Homo sapiens: one gene and its partners. The protein of the gene in region 2 purifies or fractionates together with the protein of the main gene of each other region. This does not show direct contact. Each region holds a gene or a part of one and is shown on either strand. Other genes may lie near its edges.

Evidence for each region.
Region 1: the proteins of STRADB (region 2) and CCT6B purify together in Homo sapiens (affinity purification with mass spectrometry; 3 studies listed by BioGRID and IntAct, with this or other methods). This does not show direct contact.
Region 3: the proteins of STRADB (region 2) and NBEA purify together in Homo sapiens (affinity purification with mass spectrometry; 2 studies listed by BioGRID and IntAct, with this or other methods). This does not show direct contact.

The regions. Positions count from the first base shown.
Region 1 is NC_000017.11:34,926,571-34,931,674, reverse strand, and holds the end of CCT6B (T-complex protein 1 subunit zeta-2), read left to right. Parts: intron 1-623; coding exon 624-726; intron 727-2,640; coding exon 2,641-2,713; intron 2,714-3,557; coding exon 3,558-3,627; 3' UTR 3,628-3,814; downstream 3,815-5,104. UniProt on the Homo sapiens protein: Component of the chaperonin-containing T-complex (TRiC), a molecular chaperone complex that assists the folding of proteins upon ATP hydrolysis.
Region 2 is NC_000002.12:201,445,838-201,455,739, reverse strand, and holds the start of STRADB (STE20-related kinase adapter protein beta), read right to left. Parts: upstream 4,001-9,902; 5' UTR 3,802-4,000; intron 995-3,801; 5' UTR 900-994; coding exon 888-899; intron 1-887. UniProt on the Homo sapiens protein: Pseudokinase which, in complex with CAB39/MO25 (CAB39/MO25alpha or CAB39L/MO25beta), binds to and activates STK11/LKB1.
Region 3 is NC_000013.11:34,937,148-34,946,360, reverse strand, and holds the start of NBEA (neurobeachin), read right to left. Parts: upstream 4,092-9,213; 5' UTR 3,541-4,091; coding exon 3,247-3,540; intron 1-3,246. UniProt on the Homo sapiens protein: Binds to type II regulatory subunits of protein kinase A and anchors/targets them to the membrane. May anchor the kinase to cytoskeletal and/or organelle-associated proteins.

The DNA of each region.
Region 1 (5,104 bases), on a different chromosome or scaffold from region 2:
TTTTCTTTCCCCAGAGCAGCAAAGTCAGTATGATCCTGCTGCTGACAGAAATTGGTAACCCCAGTACACATTACATTGGTGGTACCTTTTTCCTCATCAGCTGGTGATTTGGGGCCACTTGGAAGTGAGCCTGGTTTGGAGTGCAGGTATCTCCAACCCTGTTACCACAGGTCGTGACTCTCCTCATGAAGATGAGGGGCACAAAGGTGCTGCAAATATTCTGGTTTCCTTAGCAAGTGCCTATGAAGAACTGGAGGGCATGTGGCTAGCGGCACTAGAGGAAACAAGAATATCATTCTACTTCCTTCCATACTAAAAACAAAACAAAACAAAACAAACCTTTTGCAAGGAGGGAAATTAATGTAGTAGGGTAAAAATGGGGGAACTCTGATGTCCTCAGAATTTAGTGTGACGTGCATAGGGGAAATGTTTAAGTAAATATAAAAACTACTAGATAGATGAAATAATAATTTGATTTAGATTAAAAGTGGAATTCTTCAAAAGGAGATGATTGCCATGTTATGGATGTGTTTTTACAAGAGTAAAGAGTATTTTTATATTTGATATATGTGAAGGTATTATGCATATATATATAATATATATTATTATTTTTATTCCTAAAGGTTCTTGCTCAGAATGCTGGTTATGACCCACAGGAAACATTAGTAAAAGTTCAGGCTGAGCATGTCGAGTCAAAACAACTTGTGGGCGTAGATTTGAATACAGGTAAGAAAGTGAAGGAAAATTAGCTGCTTAATAAAGAGGTTATTCTTTAGTTACCCAGATCTTATGGTAAAGGAGTAGAGGTTTGGGTAACTTTAATATTTAAATTTTGGATGCCTTTAGTTTATTTTTGAGCTTCTTAAAAAATGTTCATTCATTTAAGAAATAGTTATTGAGTGCTTGTTTTCCTCTTGGGCTTCACACAGAACAAAACAGACAAAAATATCTGCCCCTGGGAGCTTATGTTGTAGTGGGAGAAGGTAGGCAGTAAATAATAACTTTAATAAATAAACTCCTTCAGCATTTTAGAAAAAGTAATGAATTATATGGAAAAAAGAGTGCTATAATAATGATCATGAATGCTAGTACAGGAGGGTGGAGAGAGAATGACAGCTTAAAGGGTTGGTCAGGGTAGGCATCATCTAGATGTCTGTTGAAAAAAAGTGGAAGGAAGTGAGGAAATTAGCCATGTAGGCAACTGGGGTTAAGTGTTCTAGGGAAAGAGAACAGCCAGTGGAAAAGCCAGTGTCTGATGTTTCTGAGGAAGGAGGTGAGAGAGGTGACAGAAGGTCAGATCATGCAGGGGCATTTGGACCAGTCTCAGGACTTTGGCTTTTACTTTAGAGGAGCAGGGAGCAATTTTGAGCAGAGGTGTGACATGGCCTAATTAATTAATTTATGAGACAGTCTCGTTCTATCACCCATGCTGTGGAGTGCAGTGGCACGATCTTGGCTCACTGCAACCTCTGCCTCCCAGGTTCAAGCAATTCTCCTGCCTCAGCCTCCGGAGTAGCTGGGAATATAGGTGTCTGCTGCCACGCCCGGCTAATTTTTGTATTTTTAGTAGAGACAGGGTTTCACCATGTTGGCCAGGCATGTGGCCTAATTATGTTTAAGAGAATCACTCTGGCCACTCTCCACTTTGTAGAGAAGTCAACTGAACAAGTAGAAGGTTGGAGTTGCAATCAACTGTGGTGGAGAATACTGGCTGGAGCAGGTTGTGGGTGAGAGGACATCAGCATTCAGTTTTGGCAGAGTCAAAGTTGAAGCATCTGTAATCTTTTAATTAAAAAAGTTGGATATATGGGTCTGGAGTTCAAGGAAGAGGTCTGGGTTGGAGATTAAAACCTGAGAGTCAGGCCAGGCGCAGTGGCTCACGCCTGTAATCCCAGCACTCTGGGAGGCCAAGGTAGGTGAATCACTAAAGGTCAAGGGTTCAAGACCAGCCTGGCCAACATGGTGAAACCCCATCTCTACTAAAAATGCAAAAATTAGCCGGGGATGGTGGCAGGCCCCTATAATCCCAGCTACTTGGGAGGCTGAGTCAGGAGAATTGCTTGAACCCAGGAGGTGGAGGTTGCAGGGAGCCGAGATGGCACCACTGCACTCCAGCCTGAGTGACAGAGCAAGATCTCTGTCTCAAAAACAAAAACAAAAAACACCAAAAAAAAAAAAAAAAAGAAAGAAAACAAAAAACAAAAACACCCAAAAAACCTTGAGAGTCATCAGATGTGTATGGTTTAAATCTAAAAGTCTGGATGAGATCACCTAGGGATTAAGGGTAGAGAGAAAAGAGGCTGGGACTGAACTTTTGGGTACTCCAACGTTAAGAGGTCAGGGAGGAAGAGGAAGAAGCAGCAAAGTAATCAGAAAAGGAGCCACTAATGCAAAAGAAAGAAAACCAGAAGAGTGTGGTATCCTGGAAGATAACATAGAGTAGGCGGCAGAATGTGATCAACTGTGTTAAATACTGGTAGATGAGGTCTGAGAATCAACCATTGGATTTAACAATATGGAGGTCATTGATGACCTTGACAAAAGTAGTTTTGGTAATGTATTAAATATTTTTAGAAGATATCAATTAATATTAATAGCAAATACTAAGATTTTGGTATGAAAATTGTTTTTACTTTTCAGGTGAGCCAATGGTAGCAGCAGATGCAGGAGTTTGGGATAATTATTGTGTAAAAAAACAACTTCTTCACTCTTGGTAAGTTCATATGAACATAAAGTGAAAGACCTGTAGAGTTATAATTGATAATATTAAGATGAAATTTTTTCTATTATTTTTGTCCCTGTACAGTGGAAAAATTGTCAAGTGTATGAAAGGTGTGGTATTCAGTTATTAGAACTAGCTTCTGTCATTTTATAGTCCATAGTCCCTTTTATATTTTAGATCTAGCAGTGTTAAGTTCTAAGAAAAATTAACCTTACTATTTGAGGGGGAAAGAAAAGGGGAAATTTACTGAAATAATAGCACATGCATGATGGAGAAAATCAAATGATATTGTAAAAATAAGCTCAATTTTGCTGAAATATAAATCAGGAATGCACTTTATCAGCAAAGGAGTTTAAATTATAATACAAAGGGTGACATTTGGGCCAGTGCGGTGGCTCACACCCGTAATCCCAGCACTTTGGGAGGCCGAGGCGGGTGAATCACCTAAGGTCAGGAGTTCGAGACCAGCCTGGCAAACATGGTGAAACCCTGTCTCTACTAAAAATACAAAAATTAGCCAGGCGTGTTGGTGGGTGCCTGTTATCCCAGCTACTCGGGAGGCTGAGGCGGGAGAATTGCTTGAACCTGGGAGGCAGAAGTTGCAGTAAGCTGAGGTCTTGCCATTGCACTTCAGCCTGGGCAACAAGAGTGAAACTCCATCTTGGGAAAAAAAAAAAAGGTGACATTTGTATTTGTATTTATAATAGCCTTGTCTCATAAAACATCATACTAACATCATTAAAGAACAAAGTACCCTACATAGGTAAAGATTGCTGGGGAAAAAAGCTAAGAGTGGGTTAGTAGGCTTTACTCACCCTCTCATCTTTTTCCTTAGCACAGTGATTGCCACCAACATTCTCCTGGTTGATGAAATTATGCGAGCTGGGATGTCTTCTCTCAAATGATGATTGAATTCAAAATCAACCCTTCTAGAAGATGAAATTTAGTACACTTTACATCTGACTACTATTGTGTAGCCTGAGCCATTCTGAATTTCTACACAATAAATGCAGTTTATGTCTTTTGGGTCTTAATAGTCTCAAAAATATTTCATCAAGGTATAAAGAACACAATAAATACTTTTACAGTAAAGGAATAATATTTAAATATTTCCCCAAGAGTCCTAACTCCCCACTCTTTGTTATATGCTATTGCAGTTTTTATAGCATAGGATCTTTATGATACTTAGACCTTTTGACAAGTTTTAATTAACAAAATAGAGGTTTTAGTACACCCAAGTAAATTTCCAATTTATCAGAGGGTATAAATATAGTAGGACAGAATGTTTCATTTTCTCTCAAAATTCTTTCAGTGACTTTTTGCTGCCACTCTTTCCTCTTATAAATATGGCGTGTAGCTTTGGGTTGCATTGTTTATAATATCTGACTCAATTTATTTTGTATATCATTTATTATATTTTATCTGGCTGTTTTTGTATGTATGATCAACAATTTATGCCACTGTGCTAGCTCTGGTAGCTCTCTGTCTAGATGGTGAGATAGAACAGGTCTCATCTGGAAAGAGAATTATTGACACCAATGGTGGGAAATAATTATTTTTGGCTTATAATACAACTGTTCAGTATAGATATTATAGCAATATCTTTCTTGTTTGAAACTCTAGAATTAATCTATTATGCTTTTTATTTTTATTAGAGTTCTTGTGGTTAACTTCTTTCCGTGGATGGTAGTTGATAAGAGACTAAAATATGGCAGGTGCATTAATGGAACTTTGGCCTGTTTGTGCATATAGGAGAAGGTTCCTTTAACCCTATAATTTTATAGCCTGTTTTTTCCACTTAATATGCTGTCAGCATCTTTCTAAGGCAGTATCCAGACTTCTTCTTCTTCTTTTTTTTTTTTTTTTTTTTTTTGAGATGGAGTCTCACTCTTCACCCAGGCTGGAGTGCAGTCATGATCTCGGCTCATTGCAACCTTTGCCTCCCAGGCTCAAGTGACTCTCCTGCCTTATCCTCCTTAGTAGCTGAGATTACAGGTGCACACCACCACGCCTGACTAATTTTTGTATTTTTAGTTGAGAAGGGGTTTCACTATGTTGACTAGGCAGATCTCAATCTCCTGACTTTCGGTGATCTGCCTGCCTTGGCCTCCCAAAGTACTCAGGTTACAGGCATGAGCCAGCACACCTGGCCTAGTATTCAGACTTCTGAACCATCACTTATTTATGGTTACATAGCATTGCATTGTATGGTTATACCACAATTTATTTTACTAATTCTGTTTTCAATTTTTTTTTTGCTGTTATAAAGAAAGATCTCCTTTTTAAACTTGTCTTTATTCTATAGGATAGGCCTTTTAAAATGGGCTTACCATGCATATGGCCAGATCTTTTCTGTGTAACATTGTTTAAATTTTGAAATAT
Region 2 (9,902 bases):
ATCATCATACAAATATACTCATCCTTTTTTTTTTTTGAGACAGGATCTCCCTCTATCACCCAGGCTGGAATGCAATGGCATGATCACAGTTCACTGCAGCCTTGATCCCTTGTTCAAGGGATCCTCCCACCTTAACCCTCTGAGTAGCTGAGACTACAGGCATATGACACTACGTCTGGCTAATATTTTATACAGACAGGATCTCACTATGTTGCCTAGGCTGGTGTTGAACTCCTGGGTTCAACTGATTCTCTAGCCTTGGCCCCTAAAAATGCTGGGATTACAGGTGTGAGCCACTACACGTGGTCTACTCATTACTTTTTTAAAAACCACATTTTAATATAAGTATTCCCTATTCAAATATTATTATTATGTATAAAACAGGATGAAAGTCCTCAAGCTACTTAATCTAAAGTAGATACCACGGATCTAAATATAAATAGAAAACCAGTTGGCAGCTATACCTCATATATACATTGATCCAAATGATTTTATTTCGGTTAAGTCAAAGGGGTTATTTTTAATACTGTTTGGCTTGCTTTTGGTCAGATGGAAATTTGTAAAAGGAATTTCTGAAAGATTTAAAAGATAAGGCATAGCTAACTGGTGTGGGTGGCATATCAAAGTATAACACCTATGAGAAAAAGTAGATATGGGACAAAAGATTAGAATAATGAACATATTGAAGTATACGAGAAGTTCTTTATGAAAGAAAGAAAAACTCAATGAGAATGTAATTCATTTCTCAAGTCCAGAAGTCAATCAGGTCAAAACAATATCTCAGAGCATAAGAATATCCCATCAGAATATGCCTTTTATTATGGCTTGGCATTAACATCCAACTACTCTGACAGAACAAAATCAGATCTATATTTACAAAAACTTACCAAAAGAGACATTGAATCACTTTAGTTCACACAGAAAGTGACAAAAATCCATCTATTCCAAAGAAGGCTTTTGTTTTATCTTCCTTTCAAGATGCAGATATATCCTACTATAAAAAACAAAAGCAAAATAATTTAGATTCACATAAAAGTTCCTTAAAGAACCAGTTGCCTTAAACCCATCCAATATTTAGGCAGCTATTCCCTGATACCCAATATTTAGGCAGCTACTCCTTGACACAAGGAGACATTCCTGAAAAGTATCTTTAAAGAGCATTTATTTTTTACTGAACATTATTTGTGATCTGACATCACAACCAAGAAGCAGAGTGAAAACAAAAAGAAGTCCTGAATATTTCCAAAGCCTCAATATGTTTGCATTTCTCCTTCCCTATCTTTTCTATACTGTTTTTTGTTTGTTTTTTAAAGAACGCTGAGCAAATTTGAAAGCAATGTAGAAAACCAATTTTTGGCCCACTTTTGATATAAACAGTGTCACTTACAATAAACCCCAAGAATTTTCAATGGTTCCACATATTACAACTAAACTTTGAGACTTTCCAAAGCCCTTTCTTATTGGATTAATTACGTATTAAATCATTTGGGGTCCCTGACCAGCAAATATGGGAAAGAATCAGAATAACAGACTAGGAAATTAATTCAAGGAGATACAAAAGCACCATCCACGGTTTCCAGACCTTTACTAATAGAAAGGGTGGCAATCTTGTAAGTTTGTGGGTTCAGAGCATCCCTTTACATCTAACCAACATCATCTCTTTCATCTAAATTGTGCTTCATTATTTCAACTCCCCAAATTTGATGAACCCATCTACAAATATGTGAGCAGGATGAGAAAGGGAAGATTTTGTAAACCATAAAAACCATAAAGCAATATCCAATTTTATTGCTAAAGAAAGAGGTGAATTTATTCAGGATGTTCACTATGAACCAAAGGTAGAGATTGGGAGGAAGACGGACCTGAAAGGCTGTGATCATTTAGCCACCTACCATTCATTACCGTCAATTTAAAGCACTGGAGTTTGCTGTGCTGCAAAAGGAGGAAAGCAATGCCTGCCCTGCCAACCTTCCAGGGTGAATGAAATCAAATGAGTTACATCTCAAAGTGCCCCTAATTAGCAAACACTGTATCAGCTTGAACTATGCTTTGAAAGGTACACTCAAATGTACTGATGGCAGTACAAAACTATAAGGTTTATTTGGAAAGCAGGTTGTCAAATGTTTCAATAACCATGAAAATATTCATACTTTTTGACCCAGTAAAATTCCCCGGAGTGATCTATTCTAAGGAGATATCCAAGTAAATGAAGAAACTACACATCATAGTCAATACACTGTTAATCTGTTAACAGCCAAGTAATCATTACACAAGTGTTTAATGAGTGGTTACCATGGGTCAGGCACTGTGGACACCCGCTGGTAATCAGGGCAGACAAGACCCTGGCCACTTGTAGCTGACCTTCCCACAAGCAGAAGGGTTATGGATGTCATGATTAACCAAATTTTCTGGTTATCATGATTTTGTATCCTGCTTTTTTCACTCAATGTCAGCAAGTTGTTACTGATTTTGTCTTAATAATGTGAAACTCCATTACGTTGTCTATTTTTTTCTCTTTTTCAGAAAAGCTCAGAAGAAACAGACACAATCTGGTAAGAATTGTTAGTAATAAAAGGGTTGTCCCTATGGGGTGGTTTAATCTCAGAGATTTTTGCCTTAGATACACCAGACTATTAAGAGATAATTTTACAAGACATTTTGAGGTCAAGGCAGCAGCTGCACCCAGCAAAGGGGTGGGGGTGGGGGATTTGCTGTTATTATAATTTTCTCCGGCATGCTCTTTCACGAGATATGAATATAAACCCTTTCTTAAAAAAAAGTCATATTTAAGAGACTTATATTTCGTATTCACAAGTACATCAGTGCAGTCCCTTACACTTGTATCCAAAACGCTAATTACGATAAAGCTTTATAAGTAATTTCAGTTTGTTCCATAATAGAATGGTTCATGTGAAGACTTTGATCTGAAAGATTAACACTTTCTGTAGAAACCAAAGGGCGCATCTTCTAGAACACGGGTTTTGAGTTAATTTAGGCATTCAACAGAGGCCACTGTTACAGGGAATGCAAAAATGACCCGATGTAACTCTTTGTTGAGCTTTAAAATTACTGTAATTTTCAAAGTGATCTTGGGAACCCATAAAATCTTAACAAAGATCATAGCGACGCACAGTTCAGGAGAATTTTCCAAGCTTAGTGACTCATGCGTTCAACAAATCTTTACTGAGCGCCTACTGGGTGCCAGGCACCGTGCTAAGCAGGCGCCGTGTTACACATCCGTATCAAGTTTTGGGGAAAAGGTACTTGACAAAGACCCAGCAGGGAAAAACACAGCGTTGAATTGAAAAACCGAAGACAAAACGACACTCGAGTATTTAATTTTGTAAAAGGTTCCTTCCTAGTCCTGCTATGGGGGACTTTGCAGCGAACTTGCAGAAGGCGGCAGATAGAGCTGGGGTCTGAGGGTGTCTTCGATATGGCAACTCCCCAAGCCCGAGAGCGCGGCCAAAGGTGAGGGGTGCGGGGAGAGGGCGCCCGGGCGGCCTGGGCCCCGCGCACCTGGCACGGCCGGCACGGCCAACCCGGCAGGCACCACTGGGCGGGCTGCGAACCCGCGGCCCGGGCCCCGCTGAGCCCGAGCTGCACTGGCGCAGTGGCTGCTCGCCACCTCGGGCCGCATTCTTGCCACGGCTCCCGCCAGCCGCCGGTGCTCGGGCTGGAGGTGGGCTAGCGCGTTCTGGCCTCTGGCTTCCCGGGCGTGCGCGGACCAAGGCTCACTCCCTCACACGTCCCCCACCGGCCCCGACACCTTCCCTTCCCGGGCCTGCCTCCCGTCTTTACCCTAGCGGCGACCACGGCCAGCGACTCTCTTCAGGCTGCCAGCGGTGCGGACAGGGGCGGGCGCCAGAGCCCTGCTCGCGGAGGGGCGAGGCGAGCGCTCTAGGCCCGCTCCCGGCGCGGGGCGCGGGAGGGCGGCGAGGCCGCGACCGGGGCCGTGGGCTTGGAACTCTGCACCAGTCCCAGGCTACCCGCTGGGAACGCATTCGCCCCACCCGCGCCGGGGTCGCGGCCCCGCCTCCCTCCCCGGGGCTGGGCAGCGAGAAGGCGGGGCCTTCGAGCTTGAGGCGGGGCGGGCAGGAAACTACAATTCCCAGCAGGTCTTGCGCTGGGGCCGTGGAGGCCGCTGGGAGAGTGGCTCTCCTTTGGCTTCCCCAATTGTGTGGGGGCTGCCATTGACCCGGTGTCGCCGCAGAACCGAGGTCGCCGAGTGATGATGTTGTGAAGTCGCCCGCCTGTCCCTGCCACGCCCGGGCGGTTGCTGGCAGTGGGAGCAGCGGCAGCAGCTTCGGCTGCTGCTTTCAGGCTGCCGCTGCATTAGGGGCTTCCTGAGGAAGCGCGGGCGGACGACAGAGGATGCCGAACCACTCCAGTGAGTAAGCTGTCCGCGCAGAACCCGAACTTGCCCTTGACAACTTCCCCGGAAAGCGGAGGGACCTCCTCGTCCCAAGGTCCTCCGGTACCCGGAGGTCACGCGCGGACGTCGGAGCCGGAGGCTGGGTGCTGGAGGGCTGGGTCCGGGTCCCGCGGTGAGGCGTGGGTTGTTTCCTAAGTGTGGGTGCAAAGTAATGGGCGCTAGGCGCTGGCGTCGGTATTCAGCCCAGCTGCACATCTGAGGCTTGGCAGCTTCTCATAGCGCCTTATCCTCTGCCATACAGCATCCATCTGGAGCCCTGTCTTTTAGGATGAGTGGCTTTAGGGTCGGGCATTAAACCTTAAGCTTCAGTCGCCATCTGTGATGTAAGTGGGAGGAGAGGGTATTGGAAAGAGCTCTTTCTGGGTCAAATAGAGTTGGGCTTTTCTTGCAATTGATTTTGAGCCAGATGCCACATATCTTGAAAAAGAAAAACGGCTGACTTTAGTTTGAAGCGTAAATAATAGATATTCGCACATGTCCTTTTTAGTAGCAGCCCAAAAATTGAATTTCAACTTAAAAAAAAATCTGCGTCATAATAATAGGGATGTTACTTGCTCTTGCTCATGCACCTTTTGCTTAGACCTGCTGTTTCTACGTCAGAAAAAAAAAAAAAAAAGGTAACTTCACAGGATATTCATCAAGTTGATGGAATGGACCATAGGAACAAAAGGAACACTTTCAGTTCTTGGTCTCCGTAAATCTTCCCGACCTTTAGATCTTTGCTGTTGACTTGGAAGTCTGAGGTACAGTAGTCTCCAAATAGCAGGTTAATGGTGGTGACATGACACTTAAAAACAAATTGTGAAGGACATTTGGAGGTGAGAAAGGTCAGGGATGAAGACATTTTATCATCCTAGCAGTTATTCCAACTTTCTTTTCTTTTTTTTTTTTAAGACAGAGTCTCGCTCTGTCGCCAGGCTGGAGTGCAGTGGGGTGATCTCGGCTCACTGCAACCTCCGCCTCCCGGATTCAAGCGATTCTCCTGCCTCAGCCTGCAGAGTAGCTGGGACTACAGGCGCGCACCACCACGCCCAGCTAATTTTTGTGTTTTTAGTAGAGATGGGGTTTCACCATGTTGGCCAGGATGGTCTCGATCTCTTGACCTCATGATCCACCCGCTTTGGCCTCCCAAAGTGCTGGGATTACAGACGTGAGCCGCCACACCCAGCTCCAGTTTTCTATTTTTAAAATTAAGTAATGTCCAGCAAGTCTCAGACATTTAGCAAGCACATACCATGTGAAAGACAGTGTTTTGTTATCTTACACACTTATTCATATGATGGAAGAGGTTTGTTAGAAAGAACCAACATTTGGCCGGGCGCTGTGGCTCACTCCTGTAATCCCAGCACTTTGGGAGGCCAAGGAGGACAGATCTCCTGAGGTGGAGAGTTCAAGAACAGCCTGACCAACATGGAGAAACCCGTCTCTACTGAAAGGAAATACACCAGCCTGGCCAATATGGTGAAACCCCGTCTCTACTAAAAATACAGAAATTAGCCGGGCGTGGTGGCACGCGCCTGTAGTCCCAGCTACTCGGAGGCTAAGGCAGAAGAATTGCTTGAACCCGGAGGCAGAGGTTGCAGTGAGCCAAGATTGCACCCCTGCACTCCAGCCTGGGCAACAGCGAGACTCCATCTCAAAAAAAAAAAAAAATTAGCCAGGCATGGTGGCACATGCCTGCAGTCCCAGCTACTGAGGAGGCTGAGGCAGGAGAATCGCTTGAACCCAGGAGGCGGAGGTTGCGGTGAGCCAAGATCGAGCCATTGCACTCCAGTCTGGGCAACAAGAGTGAAACTCAGTCTCAAAAAAAAAAAAAAAAAAAAAGAACCAACATTTTAGTATTTGCAATCTGCCAGGCACCCCAGGTGGGAGCTCTTCATACTTTAGCTCACTTAATCACTTTAACAAACCTATCACACTAATCTGAGGCTCAAAGACTTGCTTATGTAACAAGGGGAGATTTAAATCTAGATCTGCCTTGCTTCCAAGTCACAGATCAGGTAACTAATACGTACTTCAGAAATTATAGACTTTAAAGGTTGAGTGGTTAAAGAGGATTGTCTAGTGTTATTGTCTAAGACTGGTTCCAACACACACCTTGGACATCTGGAATAAGTCCTGAACCCCTGCTTTAGTACTTTTGAACAAACTGATTCTCTCTGCCTACAATTCCCATTTCTTACTGAACTGCTCAGTAAGACCCGAAAAGCCCATTCCAAATCCATCTCACTTATGTAAGAAATTATAAGACTGGACTTTTATCAAAAGGTTCTTTTCAGTTTACAGGTTTTGTGAGTCTGCAAATAAAAATATGACCCTGCTGGGTGTGGTGACTCACACCTGTAATCTCAGCACTTTGAGAGCCCGAGGCAGGAGGATGACTTGAGACCAGCCTGTTCAACATAGCAAAACCCCATGTCTACCAAAAATAAAAAATAGCTGGGTGTGGTTGTTTGTGCCTGTAGTGCCAGCTGAGATCAAAGGATCCCTTGAGCGATGATGGCACCACTGCACTCCAGCTTGAGTGACAGAGTGAGACGCCATCTCTAAAAAAAATTAAAATACGAGCAGAGAAGTGTTATTCTCCACTGAAACTTTCTTTGCTTTAGTGCCCCAAATATGTTAAATACCAGTATAAGGAATGAGACAGATAATGTCTTATTTCATGTTTATTGTGAGCTCTCATTATATTATCTGTACCAGTTTTGAACCTCTTTAGTTACCATCCTGTTTAGTTGGTAAGAAATAGGAGGCAAAAAGGTAATAGTCACATTTAAATGACTTAGTAATTAAAAGAACTAAATTATTCATAGTTGAGTCATTATCTGTTCAGATCTGCAGTGTTCTTATAATAATAGGAAACATTTATGTAATACTATGTGTTAGATAATGTTTTACCTATATTAACTTATCCTCACAATAGCACTGAGGTGTTTTTATAGATAGGCAACTAAAGCAAAGAGAAGATAGTAAATATACCAAAGGTCATGTAGCTACTACATGGTAGTACTGAGTGTCAGAGAAGACAAGATCAAAATCTGTAATCTAACATTTATTGAGAACCTACTGTGTACCAGCCCCACAGCTGGGTGCTTTCATTATGAGTTAGTCATTTGTCTTTACAACTACCTTATTTAAAATGGAAGTTCAGCATGTAATGACTTGCTCAGAGTCACAGATAAGTAAACTGTGGAATCAGGATTTGAACCCATGCTTGTCGTACTTCAAGGTTCCTGTTCTTTCTTTCATTTTCCTTCAGTGATCAAATCTTTATTAAACACCTTCTGTGTGCCACACACTGTGCCAATGCTAGGAATTTAGTCTTTGCTCTTAAGGAATGTAGTTTGAAGAAGGAAAGAGACAATTAACATAGTGTGTTGAGCAATGGGATCACAGCTTGCCGAGGTACTTTGGGAGCACAGAGAAAGAACACTGAAGTTACTCTGGAGTGGGAAGGCTTGGACCAGTCTTGGGAAAACAAATGGGAATTAGCCTGGGCAGAGAAAAGGGGAAGGGGTTGTTATGGGCTGAATTGTGTCCTCCCAAAATTATATTGAAGCCCTAACAGCCGTAACCTCAGAATGTGACTGTATTTGGAGACAGGGCTTTGGGGTGATTAAGTTCAGATGAAGCCGTTAGGGTGGGTTCTAATCCAGTCTGACAGTTTTCCTTATAAGAAGGAAATTTGAGCACAAAAAGAGACACAGGAGTTGCACACACAAAGGAAAGACCATGTGAGGATTCATCAAGAAGACCAAGGAGAGAGGCCTCAGGAGAAACCAACCTGCCAACACCTTGATTTTGGACTTCCAGACTCCAGTATTGTGAAAAAATAAATTTCTGTTGTTGAAGCCACCCAGTCTGTGGTAGTTTTTTATGGAACCCCTAGCAAACTAACAAATAGGTGTTCTAGGCAAAAGGAATGACATACAAAAAGGCTTTAAGCTGTGGTTAGGTGATAGAAGTTGACATACAAAAAGCCTTTAAGCTGTGGTTAGGTGATTGAGGTTTTTTGGTGAAGAGATAAATGTTGAGAGAAATGAAACTGGAGACTAGGCTGGGGCTGGATTAGGAAGATTTTACATGAGATGCCAAGGGGCTTAAACTTTATCCTAAGGAAGATGGGATGGAGGTGGTTTGTAGCAGTGGAAAAGCATTAGATTTGCATTTTAGAAAGACTAAGACTTGTAAAGGATAAATGAAAGGTAATAAGACCGGAGACAAGGTAACCAAGGTAGCTAGTGCCACAGGATGCTGAACTAACAGTTTTCCCAGAATATTGAAATGTCTAACTAAAACAGAGCCACTGTTAATATAACATTATAAAGGGCACAGCTAACCCTTAGGGTGTACATAAGAAGATAGGGAAAGAATTTGTATATAGCTGTTTGTACCCAGAGGCTGTCTTTATTTTGACATTTTGCTTTTCCTTGTATAGATCATAAAGCTTTATACAACTATCAGAATATTCAGATTTTTCCACTCTAAAAAGTGATCTTATGTATTTAATAGACACTTTTATGGTGCTGACACAGATTTAAGCCAAATTCTTTGACAACCTTTTGAAATACCTACTATTCATTTTAAACGTAAACATACTGAAGCACAGAGAGATTAAGTAGCTTGTCCAAGATCACATAGCTAACAGGCAGCAGAGTTAAGATTCAAACTCAGTCTGTCTTTAGAGTCTGTGTTCTTGGCTTTACACTGTGCTGTTGCTATATGATATTTATCTAGCTCTTTATTTGTGAAAAGAGGGCAGAGTAATACAAAAATAAGTATGTTTGCTGTAAGAGGCATGCAGTTTATCAGAGGAGATAAGGAACAGCTCTAAGGTTTTAAAAACTGTTTTAGAGAAGAGCAGAAAGTGTTCGGAGGCAATACCTCCTTCAAGTTGGGGTTTCTGGGAAGGCCTGTTGGGAAAAGTGGCATTGAGCTGGTGTGGGAAGCATGGCTAGAATTTGGATATGTAGAATGGGGAGAGGACATTAAAATTAGAAGAAATAGCATGGACAGAGTTACAGGACTGAGAATTTCCTGGTGTGTCTAGGAAGCTAGTAAATGCAGTTCTTTCTTTTGGCTGGAATATGTTGTGTGGTTGGGGAAGATGGAGAAGCTAGTTTGCAGGGAGGGGAAATGTCTGGGGAAGAGAATTCTCGGGGAGTGAGGGGCAAGAGAAGTTGTAAGGTTTCAAGCCTGAGTAATTGAGGCATATGCCAGATGTAGTTATCTTTTAGGAGAGGAAAAAGTTCATCTATCCCCAACTCATCAGTTAACAGGTCCTGTTTTCACTATCTCACAAACCCGTAAATCCTTCTTAAAATTTCCATTCACCTAGTTTATACCTTTATTAAAATAATCCATGCGTAAATGTGATAAAATTTTCTAATTATTTTTGTCTCTAATCTCTCCATTCCAAAATTTATCCTGCATCCTGCATTTACATTTATTTCTCTCAAATGTCACT
Region 3 (9,213 bases), on a different chromosome or scaffold from region 2:
AAAGCTTATATAAACATATGTTAAGTGTGTTTACAAAAGAAGTAATAGATTAGGTAGTACGCCAGTTTTACAACTGAAAACAATCAACAAAATCTCTTCTCTGTAGTTAAATTCTCTTATATTGCCACTTTAAATAATTCCTCCAGAAGCCAAACTTTGTTAACGATCAGTTTCTTTCATTAGTAGAGCTACAATGCAAAATCCTTGACAATGCACTCTGACTGTAACTTTATTCACAAACTAATTTACCTACCTTCCTAACATTATCCATTCCATATTTCACTGTTTTAAGTCAACTATAACATCATTATACAAAATACATACATCTCTAATAAAAATGACTAATTTTATATCATATCACATTGGTGATTCCTCACCAAACTCCCACAATCCACCTAGTAGTAAAAATAGGTCTCTAGACCTTTGGGAAACAAAGCAGAAAAATTACAGCCACCGCTCTGTTGAAGAAGTCCTACACTTTAGTGCATGCTTAAAACTTCACTCTGCCCAGCTTTTAATTCTTTGGCCAAGGCATGTGAGAAACAGCACCTAAAAACCAAGTATTTATGAGTATCCTTACATAGGAAGAAAAAATAAACAGGAAAAAGAAAGAAAAATATACTGACAAAGGCGACTGAGACAAAGGTATTGTTTAAGGTAGAAACTCCTCTTTTTTTTGAAGTTTCATTAGTTCTCCTTTCTTTTCTGTCATTCAGGGCACAGTAATAGGTATTTCACTATTTCACCTTACATTTTTATTTAATGTGTTAAACTAAAACTGAAAATTTTAAAAAATCATTTTAGATTTAATATTAAAGGTTTCCAAACTCTAACGAGTCACTGAGTGTCCTATATGAATTTTATTGGTTTACTTACTAAATAAATAGAATTAAGTTTGATAATCAGTTTTTTAAATGCCCATGACTTCCACATATTTTTGAGAATCCACTTAAATTTTCATATGACATTTTCATGAGTGTATTGGACAATAAAGCCCTAAATCTACAGTTCAAGAAAATTACACTTCAAATGACTAATTTATACTCCACAATTAATATAATTAACAACTTAGTAATAAACAGCTCCTTTTGTCATTTATTCTTTTCTCCAAAAGTTTCTATTTAAAAATCTATTGCATTCTTTAAATACATACAAAGAAATTTTAAACCTAACTCTTTAAATTCCAAATATCATTGCAGTTACAAAATCTTAGGTAGATTTGGGGATATACTATCTCAGTATTACTTTATTTCTAGTGACTCTAAGCTTAATGGTAAAGTTCTCTAAAATAACGTCTGCATACTGAAACTTCATGTCAGATTTTCATTGCTCTGAAGAGTTAAATTTCTTTTTTATCTCAAGAGAAACATTTCACTTCCTTTCTTAGTCTACCGTATATCTAAAAAACCCCATCTGTTAAGAACTGATTCAGCACACATTGCTACTGCTGCAGAGTCCAAACTGGTTATACATTCAAATCAGTTTCCAGGTTGTGAAAGCTCTACTGCCTCTTACCAGGTTAAAATGTATTAAGTAAGCATAGGAATACTTACTAAAATAGCCTAATATAATCTAACTTAAAAATGATATTGGTTAGATCAAAACTGCAACTAAAAATGTGTTCCTTTAAATTACAGAAATACAGTTACCTGCTAACATACTAACAGTTTGAGATTTATCTTCTTTTAAAAAGAAATGGCAAGTACTGACCTCTTATTTGCAGCTAGTTAAAATTAAAACTCAAGAAAACTGTATTTCTAGTAGTGTTCTGAAAAGAACTTGGTTATATCAACTTAGTGACATTCCCTCAAACTTACACTGACTTTTCATGATGATTTATTTGAAAGGTACAAAAAAGTAAAAAGAGGTGTTTTGTTTTAAACAGCAATGAATATAACAAAGACAGATAATCTCCTTTGACCTGACACACTAGCAAAAGGAAAAAAACAGCTTCAACTTTTCTGTGCATTTACGAGGTTCATAAACCGTAGACATTATCTAATGCATGTCTCAGGACACCACTGATGTAGCTGCAGCTTTCTCTCAGTTTTCCAATAGAGTAAGTAAAAATAATTGCTTAGCTGAAAAATGACTGCATGGGTGTTACAAAGTACCCCTGTAAGCATATTGTTATATTCCTGTGACCCCACACCAAATACAATACTCAACTGATTGCTCTCGATTTATGTCTTGCCTCCCAAAGCCCAACCTTACAGTATGTCAAAGACTAGATCTATTGCAGAGAAAACTGTTTAAAAAGCTTGGCTGCATTTAAAAACAAAACAAAACAAAACAAAACCTCCATTTACAAAGCACTAAATATGAACTACTGTTAATTATCCTCAATGTATGATTCTCCTCTCCTTCTTTCCATTTCTTTCCCTGACATCTTAAACGCTTCTGAGCCTCTCTGTAGATAGCGCAAAACATTAAGTCATACACACTTCTGCAGTAACTCTTTCTTACCATGAAAGGAACCAAAACCTAGGGCTGCGTTTAAAACCTTTCCTTTAGTCTTTACCCACATGCCACACTACTGAAAGTAACCACAGAAATCAACCTGTGTGATTTGGTGTCCTCACACACCTTGTGTGCACAAAAAATGACTAAGAGATCAGTATATTCAGGGCAATATTACAAAGAAGGGACGGCTGCTTCTGAGATGGAGGGGGATGGATACAGACACAACACTCTCCATCATGGCCTTGGAATATTTAAAGACAGATGCAAAACTGCATCATTTTCTGTCTCCTTCGAAAACATCACACCCCAGCTGCTCAAGTTGGAAGCTAATGCGCTTCTCACATTTCAGCAGCACGGGGGAATTTAGGCTCCAGGGGCAAGGCTGTCATCCTCGGAGAGCGACACCAAGGACAATTAAGTGTGAGAAAAAGAACCCCAGAGAACAGGAGGCCTCCTCACCTCCTAACTAAACTCTAAAGTCGACCCAAAACCTTCACCGCGGGTACTGGGTTACTCGCGGTCCTAAAAAGTGAGAAGAAGCGGTGTTAAGTTGGGCACTGCGCTCAGGTGGCAGGAGAGGACCAGAAAGAGGAGAGGAGGGAGGTGGCGTGGCTCTAGCAGCGCGCAGGCAGGTCACCCGCTGGGCAATACCGGCTGAACGCTCTGCGCTCCCAGGGACGCGCGGCGCGTGTGACCCTGGGGGTGAAGGGTGGGAGGGAAAGGCGCTGGGGACGGTGTATGTGGGGACTGGGGAAGCAGATTGAGAGCACGCCTTTTCCTTACCAGGTTGAGCACCGTCTCCACGATGTCCCTGTTGCTGACCTCTCCGACCTGTATGAGTCCAATCAACACTGCGAATTTCATCCGGATGTTGCGGATCGGCACCGAAGGGTTAATCATCCCCGCGGGGAGCATCACCGAGCCGGAGCCGGACGCCCCCCTTAGCTCCCCCATCCCGCTGCCCCCGGTGCCGCCACCACCGCTGCCCCCGCCGCCTCCGCCAGCGGCCCCGACGGCAATGAGCCCCACGGGCTGAGGCTCGAGCCCCGGGCCCGGGCCCGGCTTCTCGCTAGCCATTGGCCCCCCTCCTGAGGAGAAGGGAAGAGCAGCGGCGCTGCCGCCGCCGGTACCGTTATACCTGCCTCGGCCCCCGCCCCCCGGCCGTCGCCTCGGAGCCCCAGCATCCACCAGCGCCGCGGCGCCGGGCCCGCTCCCCGCCTGCGCCTCAGCCCGGCCCGCTCCGGCGCTCTCCCCCGCGGAGGCGGCGGGGGATCCGCAGGCTTATTCTCGGCGGTGGCGGTACCGCTAACCGCTGCCGGGCAAGCGGCTGTGCCCGCCCAGCAGGTGTGCCGCTGCCGCTGCCGCTGCCGCCGCCGCTGCCTCTGCTCTCTCCCTCTCCCGGTCTGTCCGGCCCGGCCCGCCCCCCGCGGAGATGCTGCAGCCGCTCCGAGAAGCCCGAGGACGCGAGCAGCTGGCCACGACGCTGGCCGGTGCTGAAGCTCAGGCTGTGGCCGATGCTATTGACGCTGCTGCCGCCGCTGCTACGGCCACCACTGTTGTTGTGAAGCCCCGACGCCGCCGCTCACTCCGCCATGTTGCCGCCCCCTGCCTGCGGTAGCAGCCACTGCGCCTGCGCACAGCCTCCGGGGGGGCGGAGCCCTCGGTGCACCCCCTCTTTTGCCCTGCCCTCCTTCTCTTCCCACCCACCCACCCCGACACCCCTCGTCCCTCCCCCAACCACCCCGAACGGATAGACAGGTGAGCAGGTGCATGGGGACTGCTGCCAGACACTGGGGCAAGCTGGCAGAGGCGGGGCGGGTAGTGGCTTCCTTGTGGTTTTTCCCTTGAGGGCGGATTCTCCCTTTGGGGAAGGACACAGTGTGCATGTCTTGCCTTCGCTGCCACCTCCTCCTTCTCTCAATATCCTCTTGCTGGGAGGAGGTTCCTCATCTCAGTTGTTGCATCCAGCTGCTGCTACTGCCAGTGCCACGTGCCTTGTAAGGTAGGGGAGTGGCAGACGACCTCTTTCTGCCCCTCCTCGCCCTTCCTCGCAGTCCTGTCCGCCTGCCCTCCCTAGAATTTCCCAAAGAAAAAGTGGCTGGCAAAGCAGAAACAAACGCGCGGGGGGGCGGGGGGGCGATCCTGCATTGTCGGGGGAAGAATACAGACGGAGTGTAATGGTGCTTTTTCTACAGCCATGAAAGAGGCTGACACCTGCACACTCAGGCACGACTTAAAATAGAACTTGTCAAACAGTGATCCTCTCTGGATCAAGCTCGGAACAACAAACAGCTCTTGAACTCGCCTCCCAGCCTAAAAAGACTGCAGTGTGTGACACTGTGGGGTAGTTTGGTGGGAACGACAAATCCCACACTTTCAAAATCCTGACAATCCTCAGGTATGATGCCAATTATTAATGTTTCCTTTTTTCACAGGCACGTACAATTCAGAGGACTTTCGAAATTATCTAAAAACATGGGTGATTCTCACTGCCAGCCTTGTCTGTGAGAAAAGTACATATCTATGTCTGCACAGATACGAGACAAAAAATAAACCTTTAATTTTTAAAAATTAAAATGTACACAGTAATCTTGCTGTTAGTATTGAATTAAAACTAAATAGGCATGACTGTTCCTTGAAAGGAATGATATAATTTTCTTTAATATTTCATGAGGTCTTCCCTTTTCAATAAAGATTATTGCAAGTCACCAGAAATATTAGGTATCTTGAGGTATATTCAGATCGTTTTAATTGTCCTCTCAAATGAAAAAGGTCAATATACAAATCCACCATAATCAGTTTTGTTATTATTCATATTTAATTGGACCTGCCAGTCAAGTTAACTCCCAGGATATGGGAACACGGTAAAATTCTAAGTACCACAGGTTATAAAAAAGTTCCTCAAAACCAGTACTTAGGATGAATTCTTGGTTGCATGTCTGTTTGTTTAAACTTGCACCAAAGTGATTGAATTGTTAAAGTAGTTAAGCAAACACTTCTGAAAGCAGTGGTAACTAGCATGTCCATTTAAATTAAATGGCAATTGAATTATAAAATGCTAGAATGCTTGAAACTGTACGGGAAATTTACAAAACATACAAGTCATAATAGTATGACTTGAGATATACTATATAATTGAAAAATCCTGTAACGTTTATATCCTTCTACTACATTTTTGTCTGTCCCAAGTGAGTATCATCTGCTTTTAAGAGTACTGTTTCATTTGCAAATTTAAAATGATATCTTTGTAAAATACATAAATCTAGACTGAAAGGTTGTCACACTAAGTTTTTTTACCCACTGTGCATATATCTATATGGCAGCAGGTTCTACCTTTTGCTATTTTTAGACTTCTTGCATGAGTACTTTGAGAGACAGTGACAACCTGAACTTTCTATTTCCTTTCTGAATGAATAGCTTAACATCATTTTTAACATTTCCATTTTGATTTTTCTTGTATTTTTTCTTAAGTAGTATGTATATGCAGTTGGTTGTATTTTTCTGCTCATTTTTCTTAGTGAAGATAGTGAGTGGGTAAAGATAATATCACCATTTCTAAGTAGGAAAACTCCACTTCTTTTGCCTACTTAATTCAATTTCAGAGATATTTAAAAGAGCTTACCAATTAAAAATCTTTCTCCAGTAGACAATCAGCTCCTCGCAGGCGCTATGATACTGTGGAAAGTGCATGATTCTTTGAGTCATAGTTACAACTTACTACCTTTGCAGTCTACTCAAGCTATTTGAGTTTCAGTCTCCTGGTTCCTTAAGTAGGAATGATAATATGTGTTTCATAGGGAAGTAAGAATTCCATAAAATAATTTCAGCTGAGCAGCTAGCATATAGTCAATGTGTCTTTGTGTCCTTAGTATACAGGCATGTGTGTTGCATGACCTATAAACACATGTAATACCAATTATAACCACATACAAGTCTGCATAATTGCACAGTTATATGTCTTCCATACCATCCCAAAAGCATAAAGTTCAGAAAAGTCAACAGGTCTATTTCTTTTTGGCCTACAAAACCTTTTCCCGGAAAATGTGCAAATAACTTTACATTTACATTAACAATATTTTGAAAGAAAAGCTACATAATAATAGAAGATACCCAATATGTATATTTTTAAATCTCCAGATTAAAAAATATATTTTATGTGGTGAATATTAATTTTGTATGCATTTTTGCATACCCATACTTCCTAAGGACAATCATTCAAAGATAAGAAACCTGTGAATCTGAGTTTCAGGAAGCAATATTGCAGAGAGGTTGAGAAGTCATGCCCCAGATTCAATGGAAGCTGGATTTAGATTCTAGTTCCACCACCACTTATATGTGTGATGTTGGGAAAATGACTTTAGCTTCAAAGCTTCAGTTTACTCAACCCAAAGTAAGGATGATAATACTACTTTATAGGATTAAAGGAGCTAATACATTTAACGTACTTAATGTAGTAGTAAGTGGCAATCAATAATGTTTCCCTTCATTGGCTGCCGGAAAATACCCACAGTTATTTTGTGTCATTATTTTTGGGTTTTTTTTTTTTTTGCACCTACCTTGCCTGACATAATTTACATTGAATAAATATGTTCAAAAATGAATGGATGGAAACAGCCGTTCTCCACACTATTCCCGTTTCCTTCACCTGTTCTTTAAAGAACACATTTCTTGCTTTCCTCTAAACTTTATCTGAACAGAATACTCCAAATTCAATGTGGGTTTAGACCTGTATAAAACAGAGGGAAATTCTTACCTCACCCTCAACCTTTAGCAATATAGCTCCTGTTAATGTTGCCCCAAATCAAATTAGATCTGTTTGGTTTGTTTTGGTTTTGGATTTTTTTCTTAACATGACACTAATGATTCGTGTAATGTAGTAATGATTCACATTTGGCACGTAGTAGGTTCTCAAATAATTTTGGTTCCATTCTCCTCTCATATTGAAATTATTATCACCATTAAATTAGTTACAGATCTGCCCATTCTTCCTGGTAATAGGTCTCGCATTCATCCCACTTTTTTCATCCTCACTGCAGCCACCCTGATTCAGATCCCAGTCACTTCATACCTGGTCTCCTCTTTTCCACACTCACTCTTCTCCAGTCCATCCTTACATGGGTAATCTTCGTAAAGGTCCATCTTGATGGACAGATTAGACCATCAGGATTAATTAGGATTAATAAAGAGTTTTACTTTATTAATCACAATAGCTTCTGCATGAAATAATTATCGACCTGAAAAACTAAGGCGTTTTCTTTTGTTATTACTGTTTTTTTAGCAGCAGCATATCTACAATTTGTAGCTTTACATGTAGATTTTGAGATATAAGTACAAAATTGAACATATCAATTTAAATTTAAATTTTATTTTAAGGCCAGGCATGGTGGTCCATGCTTGTAATCCCAACACTTCGGGAGGCCAAGGCAGGTGGGTCACTTGAGGTCAGGTGTTGAAGATCAGCCTGGAAAACACGGTGAAACCCCATCTCTACTAAAAATACAAAAACTAGCCAGGTGTGGTGGTGGCCACCTGTAATTCCAGCTACTCAGGAGGCTGAGGCAGGAGGATCAGTTGAACCCGGGAAGCAGAAGTTGCAGTGAGCAGAGATCATGCCACTGCACTCTAGCCTGGGCAAGAAACCAAGACTCTGTTTCAAAACAAAAAAAAAAGATTATTTAATACAAATTTTCTATTTAATTATCCATTAAATTTCATCTGCTAGGAATTTCTTAATCCTGATTATATCATGCAAATAATTTATTGTCTTATTAGTCTATGTGTAAATTTGGGAGCATTCCTTCTATACCTCCATTCAAATGTTGATTGAACAGGATGAAAACAGCTCAGCAGTCACCAGTATCACTCTGCTTGAATCAATTCACGTTTTTCAAACTGTGGGTCCCATCCTAATAGGGAGTCATGAAATTGATTTAGTGGGTTGCAACCAACAGGGTTTTTTTTAAATGAAATGAATAGAAACACACATAATGAGAAATTTCAAAATCTATTTTGTAAGGGTAAGTACCATTTTATAAGATCTGCTTTAATTACACACACGTACATAAAAATACATATGTATGTTTACTAGGTAATGATGTAATATGTATTTCTTACTGCAAATTGTAGTCAAAAAGTTTGAAAACTGATTTAAGTTGTTTATAAGCACCTGTTTAGCATACTCCTTCAATAATAAATTAGCTACCATAGTGTGCTGATAACTAGCACACATATTCCTCTGGCTTTACCAAAGGATACCGTAAGGGACCTTGACAACTGTCTAGCTGCAGTCTGGATACTCTCTGTTTCTGTATCTGAGCAAAATTAAATGAAAATATATTGATGTGAAGTATTATTACTTGCTTTGGAGATATTAAGCTACTTGCTATGGATTTTCGAGAATTAACCTCACCCTGCCTTTAGCACTTCAATCCTCTGGCACTCCTAGTTCTCTATGACTCCTCAAAGACCATTGAGAGTTGTTCAGTGATCTAGTTTTCAGATTGTTTTAGGATCAGTGGATGCAATTTGTCCTGCCTTGGGGACTTGAATTCATTTAGCCTCTCTAGGTGTCTATTTAGAATTTCTTCATCAAACTTAAATGTCAGTTTCTTCCAACTACCACTACTTCTTTTACCTTTTTTGCTCCACTAATTTTCCTCTTAAAGAGGGAACACAAACACAAAATAGAAATTCTATATTTGTATCCTAAGTTGACCCAATTTGGGAATGGTTAAAATGTTGAAGCTTACC